Linked DNA regions of Homo sapiens: all the other regions are linked to region 2. The links come from fine-mapping of genetic effects on gene expression. A gene starts in region 2. Each other region holds a variant in brackets. All regions are shown on one strand. Distances are between the middles of the regions. Region 1 has its middle 30 kb from the start of EPHB6. Region 2 holds the start of EPHB6 (EPH receptor B6). Region 3 overlaps TRPV5 (transient receptor potential cation channel subfamily V member 5).

Region 1 (8,183 bases), 29 kb after region 2:
ACAGGCACGTGCCACAATGCCCAGCTAATGTTTGTGTTTTTTTTTTAATAGAGACGGGGTTTCACCATGTTGGCCAGGATCGTCTCGATCTCTTGACCTTGTGATCCACCCGCCTTGGCCTCCTAAAATGCTGGGATTACAGGCGTGAGCCCCTGCGCCCGGCCATGTGGAGTTTCAATAAACACTGCCAAATTACCCTCCATAAAGACTGTTGCAGTTTACTTTCCAGCTGTGCATGAGAGCATGTTATTTCCCTACATGCTTGCCAACATCAGATACTATTGATTCTTTTAATTATGCCAATCTGATGGGTGAAATGGTGGGTTTTTAAAAACATTACATTCAACCGATCATTAGATCTAGCCTCTTTCTGTATGTATGTTGGCCTTCCTCAGTGCAGGTCTATCTTTTACGCATTTTCTCTTCTTTTCCTATTTCAGAGGAAAAAAGTTCCCCCTTCTTGATGTCCAATAATTAATCCACATGCCTCTTTGTTTCTCAAATATCTTCTTTCTTTAGCATCTTCAATTTTCCTGTCTTTATGTAGTTCTTCCTCTTGGCTTTCTATATAATCAGACTATAAATACGTTGGAATAAAAGACTGTATTCAACTCTACCATTCCCTTTAACCTCTCCCTTACTCGCTCTGCCCCTAAACTTGTCAAATGAGTGCTCTGAATCTGCTACTTTCTCCTCCTCTAGTCAACAACATCGGTGAAGTCATTCAGTCCTAATTTTACTGAATTTTTAAAGTTCTTTTAAATCCTGCTGCCACCTCTTTGTACCCACAGTCTCCTCTGAACTTCCAAGATACCATCCCATTTCTTGTCTTCCCTCTAGAACTACTTTCTTAATTTCTTAAGCTTACTTTTCCCCTCCTTTTACCTATAAGTGTGGATGTTCAACAGTTTTTATTTTTGGACCTTTGTTCCTTTTTCTTCACTTGTTGCTTTGGAGATCTCATCCATTCCAAACATTTCAACTATTTTCTCTCTGCGGATGACCCCTGAAGTCAGTATTTCTAGTCCTGGTGTCTCATTAAAAATCCAAATTTTCACTTGCACTTTTCTGATTGAATTGGACTCAATGTGACTTCAAGGTCAGAATGACAAATGACATTTAGTATCTTCCTCTCTCTCAAACTGAATTCTGTGATTTTATCAACTTTTTTTTTTTTTGTATGTAATGAGAAACAGAACATCTTACTTTCCAAGTAGTGAATTCTCCCTGGATAGAGACTAATTTTGTCTACTGAATACTTTGATGAGTCACTTTTGATGTAGGGGAATAGGTGAGAGGGCAACCTCAGGAAGGACTGAGCTTGTAGAGAAAGAGGTGGCTATGCAACTGCTTTCCAAGTGGTGCTGAGCTGCTGTTACACTTTTGTTTTGCTGGATACACTTTCAAGAGCTGAATTGTCTGGGGCTATAATGAGGATGGCAGTGGCTGTGGAAAGAAAGAGGAGGAAAAAGGTAGCTGGCAACCAGAATGGAAATTTGGCAAAAGAACAGACACGTTTAAGAGGGATTTTATGAGGCTCTGCCCTGCTCCACTGCATGCATGATATACTTGCTTACTTATCTCTCTGGAAAATCTTCAGCACAAAACCTTTTCTTACTGATTGATTGTGATTAATTGCAGTTAATTAGTTAAAATGTGGCATTAATTATTGACATTCTCTTGCTTAAATTTTCTCAGTGGTTTTCTGTTGTCCTAACACTGTATCAAAAATAATTCTTTCTTTTACAGCTTTATTAAAATGCACTTGACAAACAATAGACATCTTTAAAATGTACAATTTGGTAAGCTTTGACATACGCAAACACCTGGGAAACCATCATAAAACTTAATGTAATGAACTTACACATCACCTCCAAAAGTTTTGCTGTGGCCCGCTATTTATTTATTTATTTAAATTTCAACTTTTATTTTAGATACAGGGAGAACATGTGCAGATTTGTTACATGGGAATATTGCCTAATACTGAGGTTTGTACTGAGGTTTGAAGTACAGATCTTGTCACCCAGGTACAGAAGATAGTGCCTGATAGGTAGTTTTTCAAAACACTTCCCCTTGTCTCTCTCCCCCTTCTGGTAGTTCACAATGTCTATTGTTCCATTGTTTATATCCATGTATGCTCAATGTTTAGTTCCCACTTTTAAGTGATAACATGCGATATTTGGTTTTCCGTTCCTGGATTAATTTGCTTAGGATTATGGCCTCCAACTGCATCCATTTTGCTGCAAAGAACATAATTTCATTCTTTTTTTATGGCTGCGTACCATTCCATGGTGTATATGTACCACATTTTCTTGATCCAATCTACCATTGATGGGCACCTGGTTTGATTCCATGTCTTTGCTATTGTGAATAGCCTTGTGGCTTTTTATAATTCCATCCTTCTCTCCATGCTGTTCCCAGACAAACACTGATAGAGTGCTTCTTCTATTACTATAGATTTCTTTGTGTTTTCTAGAATTTAATATAATGCAATTATAAACTATGTACTCTTTTTTGTTTCTTTACTTTTATTCATCATATTATTTTGAGATTTATCTATGTTGTTTTAAATTTAAATAGTTCATTCTTTTTATTGCTAATTTTCCTTTGTGTGGATACATGACAATTTCAGCATTAGTTCGCCCATTAATAGGCAATTGGATTTTTTCCAAATTTTGACTATTACAAATAAAATTGTTATGAAAATTTGTGTCTTTGTGTGGACCTGTGCCTTTCTTTCTTTCTTTTTTTTTTTTTTAGACAGAGTCTCTGTCTGTCACCCAGGCTGGAGTGTAATGGCACAGTCTCGGCTCACCACAACCTCCATCACCTGGGTTCAAGCAATTCTCCTGCCTCAGCCTCCCGAGCAGCTGGGACCACAGGCATGTGCCACCACGCTCGGCCAATTTTGTATTTTTACTAGAGATGGGGTCTCTCCATGTTGGACAGGCTGGTCTTGTATTCCCTGCCTCCAGTGATCCTCCCGCCTTGGCCTCCCAAAGTGCTGGGATTACAGGCGTGAGCCACTGCACCCAGCAAACATTTCATTCCTTTAGTGTTATCTTTTCACCATCTAGTTTTAAATGTTGATGAAATTCAGCTTTTTTCTTTTATGCTTCATGCTTTTTGTGTTTTATTTAAGAATCACTAATAAGCCCAACATTACTGAGATTTTCTCTCATGTCTTCTTCTAGAACCTTTATAGTTTTAGCAAATCTGTTTAAATGTATAATCCATTTTGAGTGAGTATGTGTTGCTGGTATAAGGCAAGGTTGAGGTTTATTATTGTTATTTTGCATATGGTTAGCTAATTGCTCCAGAACCACTTACTGAAAAACTATTCTTTCCCCAGTGAACTGCCTTTTCAGCTTTGTTGAAAGTCAGTTGTCCAAATATGTGTGGATCTACTTTTGGATTCTCTATTCTGCTCAAAATTTTTTGACATAAAGTTGTTTATAATATTCCTTTAACATTCTTTTAATACCTGTAGATTTTGTAGCAGTACCTTCTCTCTCATTCCTAATATGAGTAATTTATATTTTCTCTCTTTTTTCCTGATTAGTCTGCTAGCACCCTATCGATTTTATTGATCTTCTCAAATAACAAACTTTTGGTTACTTTGGTTTTTCTTTACTGGTTTTGTGTTCTCCATTTCACTAATTTCTCCTGTGATATTTATCACCTTCTTTCTTCAGCTTAATTTTAGGCTTAATTTGCTCTTCTTTTTCTAGTTTATAAGGTGGAATCTGAGGTCATTGATTTGAGAACTTTCATTTTCTAGTGGCAAATTCAAGAGGACTCCACTAAATCACTCCTGTTTAGTGATTCACTGGAAGAACTCAAAGAATTCAAGAAGGCCACAATACTCACAGTTTATTAGAGTGGAAATACAGATTAAAGACAGTGAAGGGAAGAGGCTCATAGAGCAGGGTTCAAGAGAGC[G/A]TAGGCATGCAGCTTCCAGTTGTCCCCAGCAGAGATGTGCAAACAGCACTTATTTCTCTCAGCAATGATGTGTCACAGTATGCATAAAGTATTGACTTTCTTTTTTCTCAATATTACTTTAGTTATTGGTGGTTTCACACAAATTTCGAATTTTTAAAACTGGAGTCATTCACCTGAGCTTTGTGTCCAGAGTTTTTATTGGAGGTTTGTCCAGAGCTTTTTACAGGGGTTTGGACACACTAATACACTGTGTAGCCTAAAGTCCCCACCATAAATCATTGTTAGCATAGGCTGTCTGGTATGGCCCAAACCCTCCCAGATAAACAAAGTTATTTTAATCAGGCAGGACATTCCAAGGGTTTAAAAGTTATGATCCAAAGCCTAGGGAAAAGGGAGGACCAAAACTTTCTTTGGGCAAGGTTAATCCTTTACTGTACACTAATGTAAATATTTTAGTGCTATGAGTTCTCCTCTGTGTACTGAATTAGCTGCATTTCAAAAATTTTTGATATATTGCGTTTTTATCCTTATTTACTTCAAAATACTCTATAATTCCTCCTTTGATTTATTCTTTGACCCATAGGTAGTTTATATACATGTATTTAGTTTCCAAGTATTTGGAGATTTTCCAGATTTTTCTACTATTAATTTCTAATATAATCCCACTGGAGAGAGATAATGTAACTTGTACTACTTGATTCTTTTTTTATTAAAATCCAAAATGAAAGAGAAGATATTACAACTGATACCACAGAAATACAAAGAATTGTGAGACTACTATGAAGAATTATACACCAACAAATTGGAGAACCTAGAAGAAATGTATAAATTCCTAGACACATACAACCTACTAAGACTGAATCATGAAGAAAAAAATCTGAACAGATCAATGATTGAGGAGATTAAATTAGTAATAAAATTTTTCCCATCAAATAATAGCCAAGGACCTGATGGCTTCACTGCCAGATTCTATCAAACATTTAAAGAAGAACTTATGCTAATTGTTCTCAAATGTTTCCAGAAAATTGGAGAAGAGGGAGTCCTTTTAAACTCATTTTATGAAGCCAGCATTACCTGATACCAAAACCAGACAGGGATACTACAAGAAAAGAGAATTACAGGACAATATTTCTGATGAATATAGTTGTTAAAATTCTCAACAAAATATCAGCAAACTGAATTTGACATCACATTAAAATGATCATACATTATAATCAAGTGGGATTTATCCCTGGGATGCAAGCATGGCTCAACATATACAAATCAATAAACGATACACCATATTAACAGAGTGAAGAACAAAAGCCATATAATCATCTCAACGGATGCAGAAAAAGCATCTGATAATTTCAACATCCCTTCATGACAAAAACTCTCAACAAATTAGGTATAAAAGAAATATACTTTAACACAATAAAGGTAATATATTACAAGCCCATAGCTAACATCATTTTCAACAGTAAAAAGTTGAAAGCCTTTTCTCTAAGATCAAGATCAAGACAAATATGCCATCTTGTTACCTTTATTCTACATAGTACTGGAATTCCTAGTTAGAGCAATTATTAAAGAAAAAGAAATAAAAGGTGTCTAAATTACTATTAAAGTAAAACCATCTCTGTTTGCAGATGATACGATCTTAAATTATATAAAACCCTAAAGACTCTAGTAAAAAAGTATTAGAACTAATAAACAAATTTATTAAATTTGCAGAATACAAAATCAACATACAAAAATCAATTCCATTTATGTACACTAACAATGAACTATGTAAAAGAGAAATTTAGAAAATGATCCTATTTACAAACATCAAAAGGAATAAAACACCTTGAAATAAATTTAACCAAGGAGGTGAAAGATCTGTACACTAAAAACCGTAAAACAATGATGAAAGAAATTGAAGAAGATACAAATACATGGAAATCTATCCTACCTTCATAGATCAGAAGGGTCAATATTGTGAAAATGTCCACACTACCCAAAGTCATCTACAGATTGAATGCAATCTCTATGAAATTTCCAGTGGCATTTTCACAGATTAAATATTGCTTTAGATAGCTAAAGCAATATTAAGAAGAAAGAAGAAAGCTGAAGGCATCACATTTTCCAGTCTCAAGTTATATTACAAATCTATAGTAATCAAAACAGTATGGTATTGGCTTAAAAACAGACATATAGAATAAAGGAACCGAACAGAAAGCCCAGAAATAAACCCACACATATATGGTCAACTAATCTTTGACAAAAGCACCAAGAGTATGCAACGGGAAAAGGGTAGCCTCTTCGATAAATGGTGCTGGGAAATTGAATATCTGTATCCAAAAAAATAAAATAAAATAAAACTGAACCCTTATGTTACACTATATACGGAAAATCAACTTTAAATGGATTAAATATTTAAATGTAAGATCTGAAACTGCAAAAATTTTATAAGAAAACATAAAAAAAAGCTTCATGACATTGGTCTTGGCAATTTTTTTGATGTAACAACAAAAGAACAGATAACAAAAGTAAAAATAAACAAATGGTAATACATCAAACTAAAAAAGCTTCTGCATGACAAAAGAAACAATCAACAAAATGAAAAAGCAAACCATGAAATGGGAGAAAATTTTGTAAACCATATGTCTGATAAAGGGTTAATATCCATTTAAAAAAATGGGCAAACCGCCTGTTTTCAAAGAATATATGTTTTCATTTTTTCACTTTTCCAAAGAAGATAATCAGGTATATGAAAAGGTGCTGAACATCACTAATCATCTTTTTTGATTATTCAACATTTTTCTAAAGTAGACACTCAAATGGCCAAAAGGGATATGAAAAGGTATTCAACATCATTAATCATTAGGGAAATGAAAATCAAAACCACAATAAAATATTACCTCACATTTGTTAGGCTGGTCATTATCAAAAAGACAGTATTTTTCTTTCAGTATTTTAAAGATGTTGCTTTACTGTGTTCTCACTTGCTTTGTTTTCACCAAGAAATCTTCTGTCATCTTTATCTTGTTCTACTGTACAAAACATGTTTTTATCCTGTGGCTGCTTTTAAGATTTTCTCTTTAACACTAATTTTCAGAAATCTGATTATGATATTCTTTGGTGTATTTTGTGTATGTATGCTTGAGTTTTGTCAGGCTTCTTGGATATGTGAGGTTCGAGTTTTATTGACTTTAGAAACTTTCAGTCATGATTTCTTCCAATAGTTTTTTCTTTCTTCCCATCTTTCTTCTCTTCTTTTAAAACCCCAGTTATGTTAGTTCACTTTAAGTTGTCCTGTAACAATTAATTGTCTGTTTCCTTTCAAAAATTATTTTATTTCCTCTATCCTCCATTTTTGGTTTGCCTTTGTTGCTATATCTTCCTAGGTTACTAGTATTTTCTTCTACATTGTCTAATCTATCATTAATCTCATCCAGTGTATTTTTCATCTCAGATATTGTCATTTTCATCTCCAGAAGTTGGCTTTGCAGCTTTTAAAAATATCTTCTATGTCTGCTTAACATCTCTAGCTTAACTATTTTATTTTTAAATTAAATTATTATTATTTTTTTACTAATTCTAACATCTGTGCCAGTTTTCCTTTCATTATACGTTGCATTTTTCTGCTATTTTTGTATGCTTGGTAATTTTTTTATTTTATTCCATACATTGAGTTTTAATTTTGTGTTGGACTTTTTATTTTTCTATAAATATTTTTGAGCCCTGTTTTAGAATACAGTTACATTTCTTGAAATAATCTGATGCTTTTGTACCTGGCTTTAATCATTTGTTAGATGACAGCAGAGCAGCATTTAGTTTAGAGATCATTATCCTCCACTTCTGAGCCCAAACACTTCTGAGCTCTTGTCCCAATGCCCCATGAATTTTAATGTTTTTGAGTTTGGCTGGTGAAACTATACACTATTCCCGGCCCTACATGAAATTCAGTTACTGTTTTCTTTAATCCTTTGTGTGGTTATTTTCCCAATCTCAGGTGGTTTTTTCACACTCATGCTCTTGTTAATACCCTACTGAATACTGAGGGTGGGCTCTCTGATGACCTCACAAATTCTCTCTTTGCCCGCTTCTCTCCTCTGCTATCCTCAGCCCTGTGAACTCTACTTGACTTATTCTCCTCTCAGCTGTGTCTCCTTGACTCGAGGAGTTTGATGGTTTCCCCCTGGATTTCCCCTCTCTGTGCCATGGCCTGGAAATTGTCTCAAGGTGGTAAGCTTGTTTTATTATAAAACTCACCTCATTTT
Region 2 (8,183 bases):
TATCTTTTTGATACAGTAGAGACAATAGATCCACAAGCCTGCTACATCTCTTTGGTTTACAAAAATAAGACTGTTTCTTAGGTATCAAGGTTGTGTTTTGTTTTCAGAAACTGGCAAAAAGTAAAGATTTGTAGAATCATAGGTTACAAAGCATAGCTTACGAGTTATGTTGCTATAAAAATGAAATATTTCACTTTGGGAGGCCAAGGTGGGCGGATCACAAGATCAGGAGATCGAGACCGTCCTGGCTAACACGGTGAAACCCCGTTTCTACTAAAAATACAAAAAAAAAAAAAAAAATTAGCTGGGCGTGGTGGCGTGTGCCTGTAGTCCCAGCTGCTGGGGAGGCTGAGGCAGGAGAATGGCGTGAACCCGGGAGGCAGAGCTTGCAGTGAGCCGAGATCGTGCCACTGCACTCCAGCCTCGGCGACAGAGCAAGATGCTGTCTCAAAAAAAAAAAAAAAAAAAAAAAAAAAAAAGAATGACTTAAAAGTAAATTAAATTGGTAAATTGGTAAGAATTTAAAAAATTAATCGTGCTCCAATTAAATGCTAAATATGATATTTTCATGAGCAAATCAAGCTTACTTAATATAGTTTATGCACCTCAATCCACAAAGTGAATTTTTAAAGATTAAATAATGTAAGCCAAATAAGCTTGGAGGAAGGTAGGCAGAAGACATATTAGGCCATTAAAATGGGTTACTGTGGGAGGTAGAAATGAAGGATTGTAGGTGGGGGCATTAATTTTGTCTTACACATAATTCAATTATTTTTCTTGTTACAGTAAGCATACCTTATTTTTATAATTAACGTAAAATCTCATAATTAAAATCTAAACAAAAAAGAAAAATATTTGTAAAACCTAGACAAATAAGCATACGTTTACATTTTATTCACTCCCCATGCCATTTTCCTTCTATGTTTCAAAATATCAAGAAATGTTCATCTATAAGAAGAAGGTAGAGGTGGAAATACAGTAGGAGCTGAGAATGAATGAGTGAAGTAATGCCAACAAGAAAACCAAAATAATTGTTATCTCTGGCTAGTCTTTAAGCTTGTCTCCCAAGAAGTTCCAACTGTCCCGCTGCTGACATCATGCATGCTTCTCTTCGACGATGTCAAGCAAAGGGATGAGGCTATGAAGGGACAGAGGGGAACCCAGGGGACTGTCCACTGGGAACACATAGTAAAGGGCATGGCCCCAAACCGAGCCCAGACAGGAACAATTTAGTGAGACAAAGCAGGCTGCAGAGTCCAGCAGGGACAGAACAGTCCCAAGGGCAAAGCGGTTCGAGGTTTTATGTCTGGTGTGGTTGCTGGGCTGGTCCTTACACCTGTGAGCCACACAGGTCAGTGTGGGAGGGGTCAGTACCACAGGCCCTGTCCCCTATCCTGTTCCACAGCTGTTAAACGCCCAGGAAATTCCAGTATAATCCTTGCTCAGTTTAATGCCAAAGCCTCTATCCTTTAATCTCCACCTTGGAGATCTCTTCGTGCTCTGGCCTCCTGCCTTGAGAAGGATCCCATCATCAGGCTTCATGGAGGCATCCAGGACAGACAGTGAGGAGGTGGCTGTCCTCCGGCTCTTCTAGTCCCTGCTTCCTTGGCTGGAGAAGCCAATTTGTAGATTACCTAGCAGAGGACAGTCCTGTGTCCCTGGAGGCCTCCAGCCCCTGAGAATGTCCCCCAGAGCACTGTGACTCAGACAAATGTGCCTCCCACTCCCAGGCTGTGGAGCTGGGGGAGGCTTTTAAGATGCAGGCAGTGTCTAGGTCTAGCCAGACAGCCACTTAGAATGAGCCACTCTGTGCACTGACCGGGGACATGCGTGGCTCTGGAAAAGAGCATAAGGGAGGGTGTTAAGGCAGGAGGCAAATGTGCCTGAGAGATGAGTAAGTGGAAGGTTGTGGAAGAAAGCCCCTGAGTGCCAGGAGTAGCACCTGCGTCAGCAGTGCCTGAGGATGTGTGTCTACCTGGTGGAGTGTGTAAGGGAATGTGTATGAGATGAGGTGGGCGGGAGCAGATGCTGTCTGTGTAGATGGGGGCTGTTGCTTTCCTGTGGCAGAAGATGCACATCAGTGCTGGTTCCGGAGTGGTTCCATGGGCCCTTCTTCCTCACCTTCGGCCCCTGCTCTACCCCCAGTCTGGCTGTGAGTTGCTCTTGGCCCCAGGAGGTACTTCTGCAGAAACACCTGGGCTGGGAGAGGGAGCCAAGTGGGGGGCGGGGAGGAGTGGGTAAAGAAAGGGAAACCTGAGGCTTCCCAAACCCTCCAGAACCTGCCATCCTCCTTCTACCTAGAGTGGGAACTCAGGGTCTAGGGCCCAGGCTCAGGACAGAGTGATAGCAGAACAGCCGTCCCAGAAGGAGGATCCTGCCTTTCCCATGCTCAGCCCACCCCAGCCTGTTGCTCCCCAGCATTCTGGTAACTCAGTGTCATTGCCAACCATCTTTTTGCACCCTGAATGGAGTAATAGACTCCAAACAAGTCCTCCTTCTGAGGCCACCAGGTAAGTACATAGACACCCCCACGCTAATCTTCCTTTGAGAAAAAAGGCCCACTGCTCTGAAAAGCCAAGTGGCCCCACTGAGCAGCACTCAGAAGCCTCAATGCTCCAATGCCCCTTACTTGGGCAGCTTCTGTGGTCTACTAACAGCCCCACACAGCTCCCTCCCACTGGTCTCTCAGCTCAGGACCAGCATCTCCCCTCCTAGAGCCTCAGTCAAGTTCCCCTGGCGGGCGGAGGGCCTGGGTTAACTGGGAACAGACCCAGCAGCTCCGCTCCATGGGCGCTGCCAGGGACATTACAACATTGCTATGCTGGGTCCATGCCAGCTCCCCCAGGGATGGGAGGAGAGAGGGTGCCAGACGGCCAAGATCGGTGGGTGGGGGTGTGGGGCAAGCAGGGCCAAGCACCCAGATGGAGGGAGCAGAGCGAGGGTGGAGCTGGGGCAGGAGCACGCAATAGAATTTGGTTGCACGTTGGGGGTGATGGCTGGGCAGCAGGAACCAAGCGTTCCTTCCACCTCCAAGGCTTAACTGTGGTCATGGAGCTGGGGGGGACAGTGCCTTGTGGGGAGCAGGGGACAGGTGTGTGGTCAGCCTCCTGACTCCTCCCAGCTCCAAGGGGATTGGAGTGATGCCACTGGAGTCAGAGGGGTGGCAATCCTGTTCCAAGCGTGGAGCTCCGTCTCTGCGAGGACCCTCCCAGATTAGGACTCCCAAGCCAGAGCCAGAGGAGAATGTCTGGGAACGCAACTGGGGGATCCTAACAGCAAGGGTAATGCGGTGTCAATGATGCCAGGTCAGAGTGGAGTGAGAGGGGAGTAGCCAGGTTGACCGTTTCCTCACCCTTCATGAACCCCACTCTGGCCTTGAGGAAGGATCCTCAGTACTCCCTCAGGAAGCCACCTAGGGGCTGAGGAGCCCCACTACTCTTGCAAACCTTAATTCCTCTGTCCCCAAGCATACTGTCCCCGACCCCCACAACGCCGCCTGCTAACCCCGCGGGCTCACCTTCCCGTTGGCCGCAGTCTCTGCAGGTCTGCGCCCCCCGAGGCCTCGCAGTGGACCCGGGGCTCCTGGAGCTCGCACGGTGCCACCCGCGTCTTCTCCAGTCCGGGGACCCCGTTGCACCCGGCCCGGGTCCGTTCGGCGCCGAGAGTCCCTGGGATTCCGGGGTGGACCTGACGCTGGCGGCAGGGGCTGCTCCAGAGGTGGGGCGCCGGGAGATCCTGGGGGCCCGCGTCGAGATCGCCGTCGCCAAGCTGGGTCCCGGGTCCCGCCGCCCGCTGCTGTAGAGCCGCGGCTGGAGCGAACGCAGCCCGGCCCGCCCCCTCCGCGTCCCCTCCCAAGCCGGCCCGGCCCGCCCCTTCAGCCCCTTTGGCCGCCTTCCCACTCCCTTCTTCCGGGGAGCCGAGCCCGCCCTCCCGGCCTAGGCGGTGAGTGCGCGGCGCCCGCTCCTCCGCCCCGGCGCGCGGGGGAGACGCGGGGCGCGCCCGGGGCCCCGCCTGTGCGCCGGGAAGGGGGCGGCCTCCTCCCGCGGGTCTTGGCCGGGAGGATCGCACGCGTGGGGCGCCTGCAGGAAGTGGGAAGGGAAGAGGCTGTCTGTAAAGCCCCTGCCTGGGCTCGGGCTCGGGCTCGGCTTGGGTCGGACACCCGCGGAGCGAAGCGCAACTGGCGGACCGTGGCAGTTCAGGGCAGGGCAGAGCCCTGCACACACCCCCTCGCGCCTCCCTCCTCTTCGGCTTTAACTCTAGGAACTAAAACAGTGGGGCTCCTACTCAGCTTGGAACTAAGGTGGGCGTGAGCTGAGCAAGAGAGAAGGAAGGAAAAGCAGGGGGTGGAGGGAAAGACAAACTGAGAAATCTGGGAGAGTACGGGCGGTGGTAGGGGGAGCCGAGGCAGCGGGAGAGGGGGGCGTCTCGGTATGAAAGCGTCGCCGTGCTAGCCGGGAACTCTTTTCTCTTTTCGTGTCTGGATCTTGGTCAACGTTGGGGCTTCTGAGTCGAACCTCCCTCCATCTACCCTCCCCAAGGGGCAGGGCAGTCGGGTTGAAAAGGGGAAGCGCTGCTGTACGCCTGGCTCTGACATGGCTTGGGCAAGTCGCTGCACCTCTGGGTGCCTCCTCCCTCGCCCGCGCTCCGGAGAGAACCTCCCTGCAGTGAGGAGGGGCGGTGCAAGGTGCTCTCAGCTGGCGCCTGGAGGCAGGGTTGAGGAACCGAGGGGGCGCCGCGAGGAAAAGTGTTTCCGCCCACCTCTAACCCCTTCTCTAGCCGAGGACGGGGATTTGGGGTCTATTGTTTGGGTCCTACAGAGCTGGGCTGGGGCCTTGCCACGAAGTGTTGCTACCACCTGCTGGTTTTTCTAGGGAGCACAAGCACCCGGTGCGATTCCCTTTGCCCCCTTTTCTCCCTGTATCGCCCTGTCCCATCTTGCTCTCCTGTTTATTAAAGCAAATGGGCTGATCAAAACTGGTACTTAAAGAGCATTCAGAAGCCGAAGAAAATTGTGAAAGAGATCTATGAGCCAACAAACACAATAAACAAAACAATGAAACTCAGTAAGAGTCACCTGGGAGAGACAAACAGGCTTTAATGAATTGACTGAATGAGTGATAGAAAGATAAAGGCTACCGAGCAAGTTCCCACTTGGCCAGGGGTTTGTTCACTCTTAATATCAGGAGTCAATAAATAAGTCTGATAGTATTTAATGACTGCATTTGGACGTCATTAATAATTCCACTTGTACTGACGGTTCTACTTTATCTTGTTTCTTCCCTTTGCCCTGAAACTCAGTGGTGGAGGGCTTCCTTCATTTTCTGGTTATCTCCAAGGCTTTCAAAGACTTCTGCAAAGAAACAGAATTTGCATTGTGTGTGGAATTACGTAACTCATACATTAACATGCCTGATTGCTAGACATCTATGGTTATATTGAAAACTTAAAAAAAAGACACATAACTAGATTATGTTAAAATAAAAATATGGACAAAACCAAACCGTAGTTGTTACTTTATAAAACCCAGAAATTCCTGTAGTAATTTGCAACGTATCCTGTATTGACATAACAGTAAAAATATCTGCCTTCTTTTCTATTTCATGATATACCTCATATTAGGTGACTATAATATGAAATGAAGTTTTTGCTGCTCAAGGCTTGTGTAATTAGTTATATTTGTCTTGTTAATAAAATTTGAGAGGCATCTAGTTTTCAAAGGAAGTGTCATACTCAGGATGCAAAGAGGTTTAAATTTGTGATTAGTCGGCTTTGCATCCTAATTGCCTATGTCTTATCAAACCAAGTTTTAATGGTAGGTGGAGAGCATAGAATGCATTGTTAAAGTATGCTGCAACCTGCAGCTATTAAAAAGCAAAGTAATGAATTCCTTTTTAAAGTTTAATGTAAATTTTTTGCTATAATTTGTTTGGTGCCTGGGACACTCCAGGTGCTTAGAAGTGTTATAGAATGAATCAATAAAAAATAATATTTAAACTTTTTCTATGTGGATGGGCACAGTGGCTTATGCCTGTAATCCCAGCACTTTGGGAGGCTGAGGTGAGAGGATCACTTGAGGTCAGGAGTTTGAGATCAGCCTGGCCAACATGGTGAAACCTCATCTCTACCAAACAATACAAAAATTAGCCAGGCATGGTGATGCATGCCTATAGTCCCAGACACTCAGGAGGCCAAGGTGGGAGAATCGCTTGAACCCGGGAGGCGGAGGTTGCAGTGAGCCAAGATTGTCCTACTGCACTCCAGCCTGGGCGACAGAGTGAGACCCTGTTTCTTTCTATATATATATGTGTGTATATATATATATTTTTTTTTTTTGACTTGTTCAAAAAAAAAACCCTGGAGTATTGCTAATGGGCAGGACCTAATAAAGTTTATGGCTCACAGAATTAATCATTTCTGGCACACAACAATCTATTATGTAAATTTGGAACCAAAAGGAACTGCTGAGTAGAAAACTCCAGGTGAGATAGGAAGGCTCCTAGATTGGTTCTGCCTCATTTTTTCTGAGTTTTTGCCTCCTTCTTGGGCTTTGCTCACTCCCCTAGGATGTGCAATTTTCTTCTTCCTTATTTCCCCTTAGAACAGCTAATGTAAGCTGATGTTGTCATAAACAAAGAGCTTTACAAATAATTTCACTGATAAGAATTCTAGTAAAAAGCCATAAAGGAGTCTTCTGAGTCCCCTATCTCTTATTCCAAAACATTAGTTATAGCTCCCAATGCATGACCTCACAGGGCTCAGGCCCTTCACTGAACTGTCTTGAGGCTTTGTGGCCTCTAGGTGCAGTTGCACTTCCTAAAAGCTGGAGTCTAGTCTCCAAACACTTTACCAATGGAAGTGTTAAATGCCCATTTGTACAACTAAAGCTTTTATTGTTTTCTGTTCAGAAACTTCTAGAATGTTCAAAAATTCTCCTATGTTACTGGTTTGTTTGAAAGTCAAACCTAGATTGCAACTGATTTGTAGACCAAGGGTAATGGATACCCTTCATGGTGGTATTAAAGTTTACCCATCATAGTCCTACACTTTGATATTACTTTAACCATGCAATAATAACAAGGTATTCAGAGATATTAGTGCCTCCAAGAGAAAGAGGATGGCTTTTCTCTCAGTTAGGGGTTGACTTCAGCTATATGTAACAGCAAAGTTGTACAACAGTGGTTTAAACAAATTAGATAACACAGAAATACGATGAAGGTCCCAAGTCAACAAGACTCCAACTTTAGGATGAGGACTTGTTCTCAGATTGTCAACATTTTAGCCAGAGCTCCAGCTATGAGGTCTACAAATTTCAGGCAAGAAAAAGAAGGGAACAGGATTAAAACGCTACATCCAGCTGAATTAGCACTGTTCAAAGAACCTTTCTGGAAGATCCATTCAGTGACTTCATATGTATTATTGGCCAGGACAGTGTCACGTGACCACCCCTACCTGCTTGAAACCTGCAAAATACATGCTGCACAAAATGAAATTAAAGCTGTTAAACCTAAGAGAGGAAGAAAGAAAGCGTGTTAGCCAGGGGAACAGCAGCCTCTGCCACAAATGAAATAAAATGATCACGGTAATCTACATTTTTCCCTGCAATCAACAGAGATCTCTATCTCCTTTTTATAGGATATACTTGCTGGTACTTTCCCCCAGACCACTGTCTTTACATAGGTTTAATGCTCAAAGATGGTCCCCAGGAAGTTAGTGGAGTGAAGGGAAATGCTAGGAGTGTCCTCTTTCTAAAATAACCATGACATGATCTCAAAAGAAAAATAACAAATCCTTTGCAGTTACCCATACAAACAATAGGACTTGAAAACATTCTAGATTTTAATAAGATTTTGGGCAGGGCAGTCCTCATATGCAGAGCAGAAGTGATCAACACTCCACACCATTCTTTGCTCCTTTCCTGGTTTGTATCTTTTCCATTCAGGTGCATATAGGAGATGGGATGATCTATGATGTGGAGCAGATGGTCCCCTGGTCGGCTCTTCCAGTAGAATGCAGTCTATTTCTGGAGCTGCGCCTCCAGATAGTGCTCTCTGAAAACATTTGCATTTCCTAAACTGAAAGGGTGGCCTGCATTTCTATGAGATCTGCCTTCTACTTGTAGATGTGGCTGACACATTTCCTGGTTCCCATATTCTCTTGTCTTATAGTATACGTCTCTCTCTACA
Region 3 (8,183 bases), 72 kb before region 2:
GGGAGGCAGAGGCTGCGGTAAGCTGAGATTGTACCACTGCACTCCAGCCTAGGCAACAGAGCAAGACTCTGTCTCAAAAAAAAAAAAAAAAAAAAAAATAGCCTGAGGGAGTAGTCAGAACTTTAGTGCCTCACAAATTTCACAAATTTCAAAATGCCTAGGAAAGATCTAGCAGTCGATCCATTCCTCCTCCCTCTGTGTTTTGGTCTCCCAAACTCCCCTTGGTTAAAGACAGTAGATTCAGCAGGCCCAGGAGCAGGGGGACCGCAGATGGAAGTGCCCTCTGTCCCGCTCTCCAACTATCCAGGATCTGAGACAGTTACTCAGGTTAGATGAATTCAGCCAAGCCTAGGGTCCTCTTCTTAGAGACTCTCAGACCACTCTTTCCAGACTACAGGTTCTCTTCCTATTAACTCTTCCCCTCCAGCAGAGCTTCAAGGGCCATCCTCACAGGAGAATCACCATGATGTGAATTGCAAGGAAGGCCCTGGGGCTGACCCTTGCCCAAGTCCACCCTCGGTCATTCGAGTCCAGTAGGCACTTCTTTCCAATTTGTCACTGCACGCTGTGTGAGTCACGTTGGTCTTAAAGAATGTCTTAGATCCCCTTTGCTCTTGGCCTCATTCTGCTATGACTGTCTCTTCCAAACTCACGTTCACCTTTCCCCAGGATTCTAGAGTCTCCACTGCTTCGAGCATCCAAGGAAAATGACCTGTCTGTTCTTAGGCAACTTCTACTGGACTGCACCTGTGACGTTCGACAAAGAGGTGGGATCTGGATTTAATGGGATGGAGGTGGGGGCAGAAGAACCTACTCCTCCTCCCCAAGACTTCGAGTTTGTGAAATAGGGCCTTGGAGGGTGTCTCTGGAGCCTGAGGCCCCTTCCTCAAGGGAATCTGAAAAGTGTCTAACATCTCTGTCTTACTCCAATCCAGGAGCCCTGGGGGAGACGGCGCTGCACATAGCAGCCCTCTATGACAACTTGGAGGCGGCCTTGGTGCTGATGGAGGCTGCCCCAGAGCTGGTCTTTGAGCCCACCACATGTGAGGCTTTTGCAGGTAAGGAGCCTACATGGTAATTCAAGGTGGAAACTTTGAGATGGAGGGTGTGCTGTTGTCTCTTAAAATTGGCCTCTGAAGGATGGGTTGGGGTGGGGTGATGGAGGGTCAGGAGGATGGGCTCCGTTGAGTTGGGAGAAATGCAAAGGTCCTGGTCTTGGCTTTTACCAATCTGTGGCTTCCTTCAGCATTTCCTTTCAAACCTCCCATAGTCCCTGTAGGACCTATCTCAATTTCTTTCTCTCATAGCAACATGAGAATGATTATATTCATAGCAATCCCCTGCTGGCTCCCAATAACTGAAGGGTAGGTCAATGAGCAGGGCAGCCTGAGGGATGAATTGCTCTTAGTCCCAGGCCACCCTGCCAAGCCCAGGGCAGAAGTCTAGCAAAGATCTATCAGGAACCTCCTGAGAGGGATGGTGGGGGATGCTGTGTCCCTGAGAGAACTGGGGACAGAGGGAGACCCTGATGATGGCTGTCTCTGGGCCAGGTCAGACTGCACTGCACATCGCTGTTGTGAACCAGAATGTGAACCTGGTGCGTGCCCTGCTCACCCGCAGGGCCAGTGTCTCTGCCAGAGCCACAGGCACTGCCTTCCGCCATAGTCCCCGCAACCTCATCTACTTTGGTGAGAGCAGGGTTGGGCTTGAAGGATGGTTGGCTGGAGAGGCGGGCAAGGCAGAGGGAGGCCAGGGCATGAGGGTCCTGCCTTCAGCTCCATCTGTTGGGCAGTTGAGAGGGGCAGCCCTTCTAGGGCTTAATTAAGCCAGAGGCCCATTCCCCTGATGGTTCCTTCCTCTGGTTCTGCTGGACGAGTGTCCCTCAGCCTAGAACTGAGATATGGGGGATGAGGAGGAGGCCCTTATTTGGGGGAGACTGCCCACCCCATCCTGCCATCCTGCGTTCTCCTGCCATGGATCTCTCTGTGTCCACAGGGGAGCACCCTTTGTCCTTTGCTGCCTGTGTGAACAGCGAGGAGATCGTGCGGCTGCTCATTGAGCATGGAGCTGACATCAGGGCCCAGGACTCCCTGGGTAAGAGCTGGGATGGGGAGGGGAGCTGGGATGCTGTGGGGAGCGAGGGACAGGGTAAGGAGTGGAGCTGGGACCTTTAGGAAGACCCCAGAGTGGGGATGGGGACATCAGGGACTTTAGGCCAGTGGCCACATGATACCCTGCGTCCTCCCCAGGAAACACAGTATTACACATCCTCATCCTCCAGCCCAACAAAACCTTTGCCTGCCAGATGTACAACCTGCTGCTGTCCTATGATGGACATGGGGACCACCTGCAGCCCCTGGACCTTGTGCCCAATCACCAGGGTCTCACCCCCTTCAAGCTGGCTGGAGTGGAGGGTAACACTGTGGTAAGAGACGCTCCCCATCCCTGAGGTGTCTTTCTAATGACCCTCAACCTATCCTGCTGGCCCTGGGAGAAATAGAGGTGAAGGGCCCACCTTTCTCTAAAATCCCTTTTCCCCAAACTCCCCAAAGGGATGGTGGTCCCTTGCTTCCTATTCCATCACTGAAATCTTCAGCTTCATGGTCCTTGACTCAAGAGGATTTGAGAACCTTACCTTAATGCATGTGCTGTGATAACCCAAAGCTCTAGCTTCCTTTGCCTATTTTCTTCTTTCTGCACTTTCTGGGGTTTTGGAGCAGGAAAGATGACAAAAAAGGGAAAGCTTGTAGATGCAGAGGTTTGCTGGTTCCCACTGTCTGTCTGTCTCAAGGGGTGGGCAACTGGCTCCATCCAATGGAGTTGTTCTCCTCGACCACCTTCTCACACGTTGGCCCCCTGACTCATCCTGGTGGTCTCTCAGATGTTCCAGCACCTGATGCAGAAGCGGAGGCACATCCAGTGGACGTATGGACCCCTGACCTCCATTCTCTACGACCTCACGGAGATCGACTCCTGGGGAGAGGAGCTGTCCTTCCTGGAGCTTGTGGTCTCCTCTGATAAACGAGAGGTATGGATGCCAAGGAGGATCAGGCCTGTCATGTGAGGGAATTTAGTGTTTGTGCAGAGTCTGTCCACTTACTAAGATCCTGGGCCTGAGACACTTCCCAGCCTTATAATAGGTGGAGATGAGAATAGTCTCCTGGGACATGGGGGAAAGTCCAATGCACACTCCTCTCCTGAATCCCCTGTCTCTCTGCTTAGCTCCAGTCCCTTCTGCCTACCTTTCGCCTTCTATCATTTCAGATGAGAAACTCCAAATAAGAGCTGTTTCCTCATATTCATTCATTGGTTCAGCATTGATATGGTTTGCATTTGTGTCCAAATGCAAAAATTTCATGTCAAATTGTAATCCACAGTGTTGGAGAAGGGGCCTGGTGGGAGGTGATTGGATCATGGGGACAGACTTCCCTCTTGATGTTCTCGTGATAGTGAGTTTTCACAAGATCCGGTTGTTTAAAAGTGTGTGGCACCTCCCCCTGCTCTCTCTTCCTCCTGCTCTCTCTTCCTCCTGCTCCGGCCATGTAGGATGTGCCTGCTTTCTTCTTGGCCTTTTGCCATGATTGTACGTTTCCTCAGGCCTCTCCAGAACCTGTACAGCCTGCAGAACCATGAGCCAATTAAACCTTTTTATTTATAAATTACCCTGTGCCAGGTAGTTCTTTATAGTAATATGAGAATGGACTAATACAAGCATATTGAACACCCGCTGTATGTCAGGCACTGCACAAGAAACAAACAGTACAGAAATAAATACAACACAGTTCCTGTTCATCAACTTCCTCAATTCTCAGTCCCTGTCCTGAATAATTGCAACAGAGCATGACATATGCCGTAATAGTTGTGTGTACCATGCATG[C/T]AGACAGCCACATTGAGGTAGAGTTAACTTGGCTTGGATAGACCAGAGAAGATGTCACAGAGGAAATGCTGGGGCTGGATCTTCAAGGAAGAATTGGGAGTCACAGGAAGATGAGAGAAAAAAAAGAGCTTTTTAGAGAGGGAGCAACGTATAGACCATTCAACAATGCTGGGTTGAGTGATGTGAGGGAAACGAAAATTTGTTGAAGACTGCAGTAGAGAGGAGAAAAGACTTCCAGGTTTCAGAACGTTCCATGAGAGTGCCAAGATGTAGTTTCTGTTTTGTATCTGCCACAGTGACAATTTCCCAGGAATCCTTATAGATCCAGAAAACATGAATGATTATTAATACTAACGAATAGAAGAAAAGTTGAGTGGCTAGTTTGTGAGATCTTCCTCAGAGAATATCCCTGGAAACAGATACACTTTGAGCAGGATTTCTTAGGTATTAAAAGCACAATCCCACTGTGTGGATTTCGCCACCACATATCCTTGGTCTTTGATTTAAGCTATTCTCAATATTCTCCAGCAGGTTTCATAAGTGTCTTGGGTCAGTTGCTTTTTTCCTCCATAAATCTTCCTTTCTAGCCCCCTTTCACATCCTTCACTACCTTCAGCTGCAGTTCAGAAGACCTAGACTCCTGATTTAGGACAAAAATAGAGGCTTTCTGGCTGGGGATCCTTCAGCTTCCTGCCCTACACTGCCGAGCATGTCTGGAAACTGCCCACTGTCTCTCTCCTCCCCTCCAGCTTCAGTAGAAAAGATATTCATGCTGTTAATGGCTAATCACTCTACTGTGCTTTGAATCTGTCTCTTTCTAATTTCTCAGATGCCTCCTCCCGTCCATCATCCCCTCTCCTGTGTATCTTTAACGTCTCACTGGCTGCTTATTTCAGAGCACCATCCCACCCTGCCACATCCTACTGCCTGTAACCTCCATTGCTTCTTTCCAGCCCAATAATACTTCTAGAGCAAATCTGACCACTTCCCTGCTTGAACTCCCCAGTTGCTTTCTGTTATATTTAGAAAAAACAAAAAATGCAAACTTCCTACCTTGGCATTTATGATGCATGATGACCTGGCCCTGTTCTTCCTCAGTCATTATCATTTCTGACTACCACTCCCAATAGATTCTCCCCTCTCCCCAACCACATCTCAACTGCAAATGGGCAATGGCTTCTCAGACCTTCCTGACCTGGCAACTGCTGTTAGCTTATGGTATGATCTTTCCTAACTCTCCCTTTACTCATCTAACTACTACTCATCCTTTAAATCCTCTTTGGTGCTATGGTGCCTTGTGTTTACTGCTATAGTCATTTACCTGTATCACTAGCACAAGGCCCAGCCATATGCAGGAAATATACTATTTGTCCGTCAAATAAGTGACTGATGAGCTGAGTGAGTGATGGTTGCTGCCCTGCCTCTTCTGGCCCCCAGTGGGATAAACAACATCCTTCTGTGTTGGTCACCCCAAGTTTCACTCTACTTCCATGCCAGGCTCGCCAAATTCTGGAACAGACCCCAGTGAAGGAGCTGGTGAGCTTCAAGTGGAACAAGTATGGCCGGCCGTACTTCTGCATCCTGGCTGCCTTGTACCTGCTCTACATGATCTGCTTTACTACGTGCTGCGTCTACCGCCCCCTTAAGTTTCGTGGTGGCAACCGCACTCATTCTCGAGACATCACCATCCTCCAGCAAAAACTACTACAGGTGATTCTCCTCAGAAGGGGATGAGAGAGAATTGCATCAAGGGGTGATGGTGCTGGAAACGAAGCCATGCTACTCAGGGACGATGCCACGCTCTGGGTTCCAGCAGGTGTAGGCTCCTAAACACCCAGGTAGAAATTAGACATGAGACCAGGAGGCCACAGATGGGGTTTAATGAGCACAAGAGCATTTGTCCAGGGAGCTGTGGATTTTCTCACACAAACTTTGAAAGAGTGCTTGGCATGAGTAAGCCTGTGCTTTTGTGAAATTTTTTGGTAATTTACAAAAAGTATCAGGGTTTTTTAGTGGGATGTTCAAGGTAAACTCTATTGCTCAAAAGGAGGAAAATTGTGCTCCAAGTCCATTTCTGAGTCCATTTTTGTTGTATTTGGGCAACACAGACAGCCCTGCTGGCCTGCACCCTCTTCTGTGTGCTGTCTATATGGGCCCATGGGAATAATGTGTCAGCTGTCTGACTGCCTGTCAGACACTCTGCAGAAGGATGTCTGGATTGGGTATCAGGCTGAAGTAAATACTCTCTGAGGCTCCATTTAGTGTTGTGGGCCTGCCATTCTGTGTTGTGGTGGCCAAGGGAAAACTAGGGTTAGGAAGAGGACTGATTCGAGGTACACAGTAAATATAGAAATCTGCTGTTGAAGAAAGTAAACCTCCTTTTTGTGCAACAGAAAGGGTAGACTCTAATGAGCACTTCTGAATATATATATTTAACAACTGTAGCTATATTTGAGGGGTTGACTCTTTGTGGATTACTAAAATTTTTGTCCTGGTGAGCTGAAAATACACAGAAGGTGATGTAGGTATGTAGCAGAAAGCAAAAGACCAGGAAAAAGAATTTTGCAAAGCAAGTGAGAACTGAGTGATTGGAGATTTATCTCAATGCAGGAGAGAGCAGCCATAGGTATAGCTCAGCCTGGACTAGGAAGCAGGGTAGTTTCAGTCGGAAAGAGAATATAAACTTTCTATAGCCAAGAAGCAAAAATCCTGAATTTGTTTAGACCAAAGACAGCGATATGCACAGAGAAAGAACAGGGCAAAGAGCCCAAATGAACCCTATGCTAGGTAGAGACACTCCATCTCTCCTGTTTTTAGAATTGCCTTTATATATATACATGTATATGTATATATATATATATATGTATATATATACATGTATATGTCTATATATATATATATGTATATATATACATGTATATGTGTGTATATATATATGTATATATATACATGTATATGTATATATATATATATGTATATATATACATGTATATGTATATATATATATATGTATATATATACAGTGTGTCATGTGTCCAGATACACTGCCTCTCACCAAGTAGGTCTTGCTGCCTGGGGAGGACAAGCCTGAATGTGTTAGAGACACTGGAAGCAGTTGTGCTGCATGCATCTCAGTCTGGCCGCAAAAGTTGTCCCTGGCATGGAGACATGAGGAAAATAAGGACAGTTAGGAGATGGCAAGTGGAGGGAGGAGTGATTAGAAATTGAGAAAACACAAACAAGGTGGGGATGACTGGACTTTTCCAATGCTCCTGGCCCTATTTCCTCAGATATGTCTTCTCCAACCTTCCTTTGTCTCAAATTTACTTGGAGATTTTCTGCATTTTGAAGGTAGACAGGACTCTGGGTTAAAAGGTGGGCAATGCTGAGCCACTGATAACCAAAACTCTCCTTCCTGTGTGTCTCTTTCTCTTTGGGACAGGGCTAGTTATGTACAATCACATTTCTTTGATCCAGATAGTCTGTATGTAAAAGACCGCCTCCTTTGCTTCAGGACTCAGAAGCATAATTATAGCTGAACACCTGACCCATCCTTCTTTCTTTCTCTCTTCTGCCTTCCTTCTTGTTCCTTGGCATTTTTACCCTTTCTGCCTTCTGCTTCAGTGAAAGCCACTTCAGCTCAAAGAGAAGACTTTGGACTTTCAGATATTCTTTTCTTGGTGGAGAAGTGGGTGGGTAAGAGGATTGAGAATGCTGCTGGAAGGGGTTAGATAACAAAGAACGCTAATGAAAAGTCCCTATGCTTTGAGCCCTGGCCCTGATTTATGGGATGACTATGTTCTTCTTATTCAGTAGTAAGCCCATTTGGATTAGATCAGGGGCTCCTAAACTTATCATCATGATTTGAAAGATTCTGTTTTCACAGTGCACCAGATTTTTTAAATAATAGGAAATTCCTTTTTTTTCCTACTGTTTTCTTACTTGAAAGTCTTAGAAAAAATGAAAACGCACAAATACAGTGTCTTGATTTGACTCATGCAATTGTTGACATATTAGTTAGCTGGTGGAGCTTTTTCTTAGATGAATGAATACTTTACTGTCCAATTATATTAATAACTCTGGGATCACAGGGATCTCAGTCACTTCAGGACTTCCTCTGCAGATCTCTTGGGATCTGTGGAAATCACTGGGCTCCATCACCCCTAAGATCCTTTCTAGTTTAATATCTGGCATTTTATAAGAGTAGTGCAACAGCACCATCTCAGAACAGATGAGAGAAAACAAATTCCTCTGTATAAGGTAGCAAAAAACTACACAAAAGCTGATGTTTGTAAAGCTGGAGTTA

Evidence for each region. PIP is the estimated chance that this variant, and not a neighbour inherited with it, causes the effect.
Region 1: its variant is fine-mapped to the expression of EPHB6 in whole blood (TOPMed, PIP above 0.99).
Region 3: its variant is fine-mapped to the expression of EPHB6 in whole blood (TOPMed, PIP 0.91).

The regions. Positions count from the first base shown.
Region 1 is chr7:142,821,445-142,829,627 of GRCh38, reverse strand. No RefSeq gene overlaps it. Among named protein-coding and RNA genes, the nearest start is that of EPHB6, 30 kb to the left of the region's middle. The variant G/A (reference allele first, on the strand shown) is at 3,943.
Region 2 is chr7:142,850,720-142,858,902 of GRCh38, reverse strand. It overlaps EPHB6 (EPH receptor B6), which reads right to left and starts at 3,827. Exons shown (of 20, transcript NM_004445.6): 1 at 3,518-3,827.
Region 3 is chr7:142,922,933-142,931,115 of GRCh38, reverse strand. It overlaps TRPV5 (transient receptor potential cation channel subfamily V member 5), which reads left to right. Exons shown (of 15, transcript NM_019841.7): 2 at 670-767; 3 at 936-1,058; 4 at 1,551-1,688; 5 at 1,996-2,094; 6 at 2,250-2,425; 7 at 2,882-3,028; 8 at 5,375-5,587. Among named protein-coding and RNA genes, the nearest start is that of TRPV5, 6.7 kb to the left of the region's middle. The variant C/T (reference allele first, on the strand shown) is at 3,878.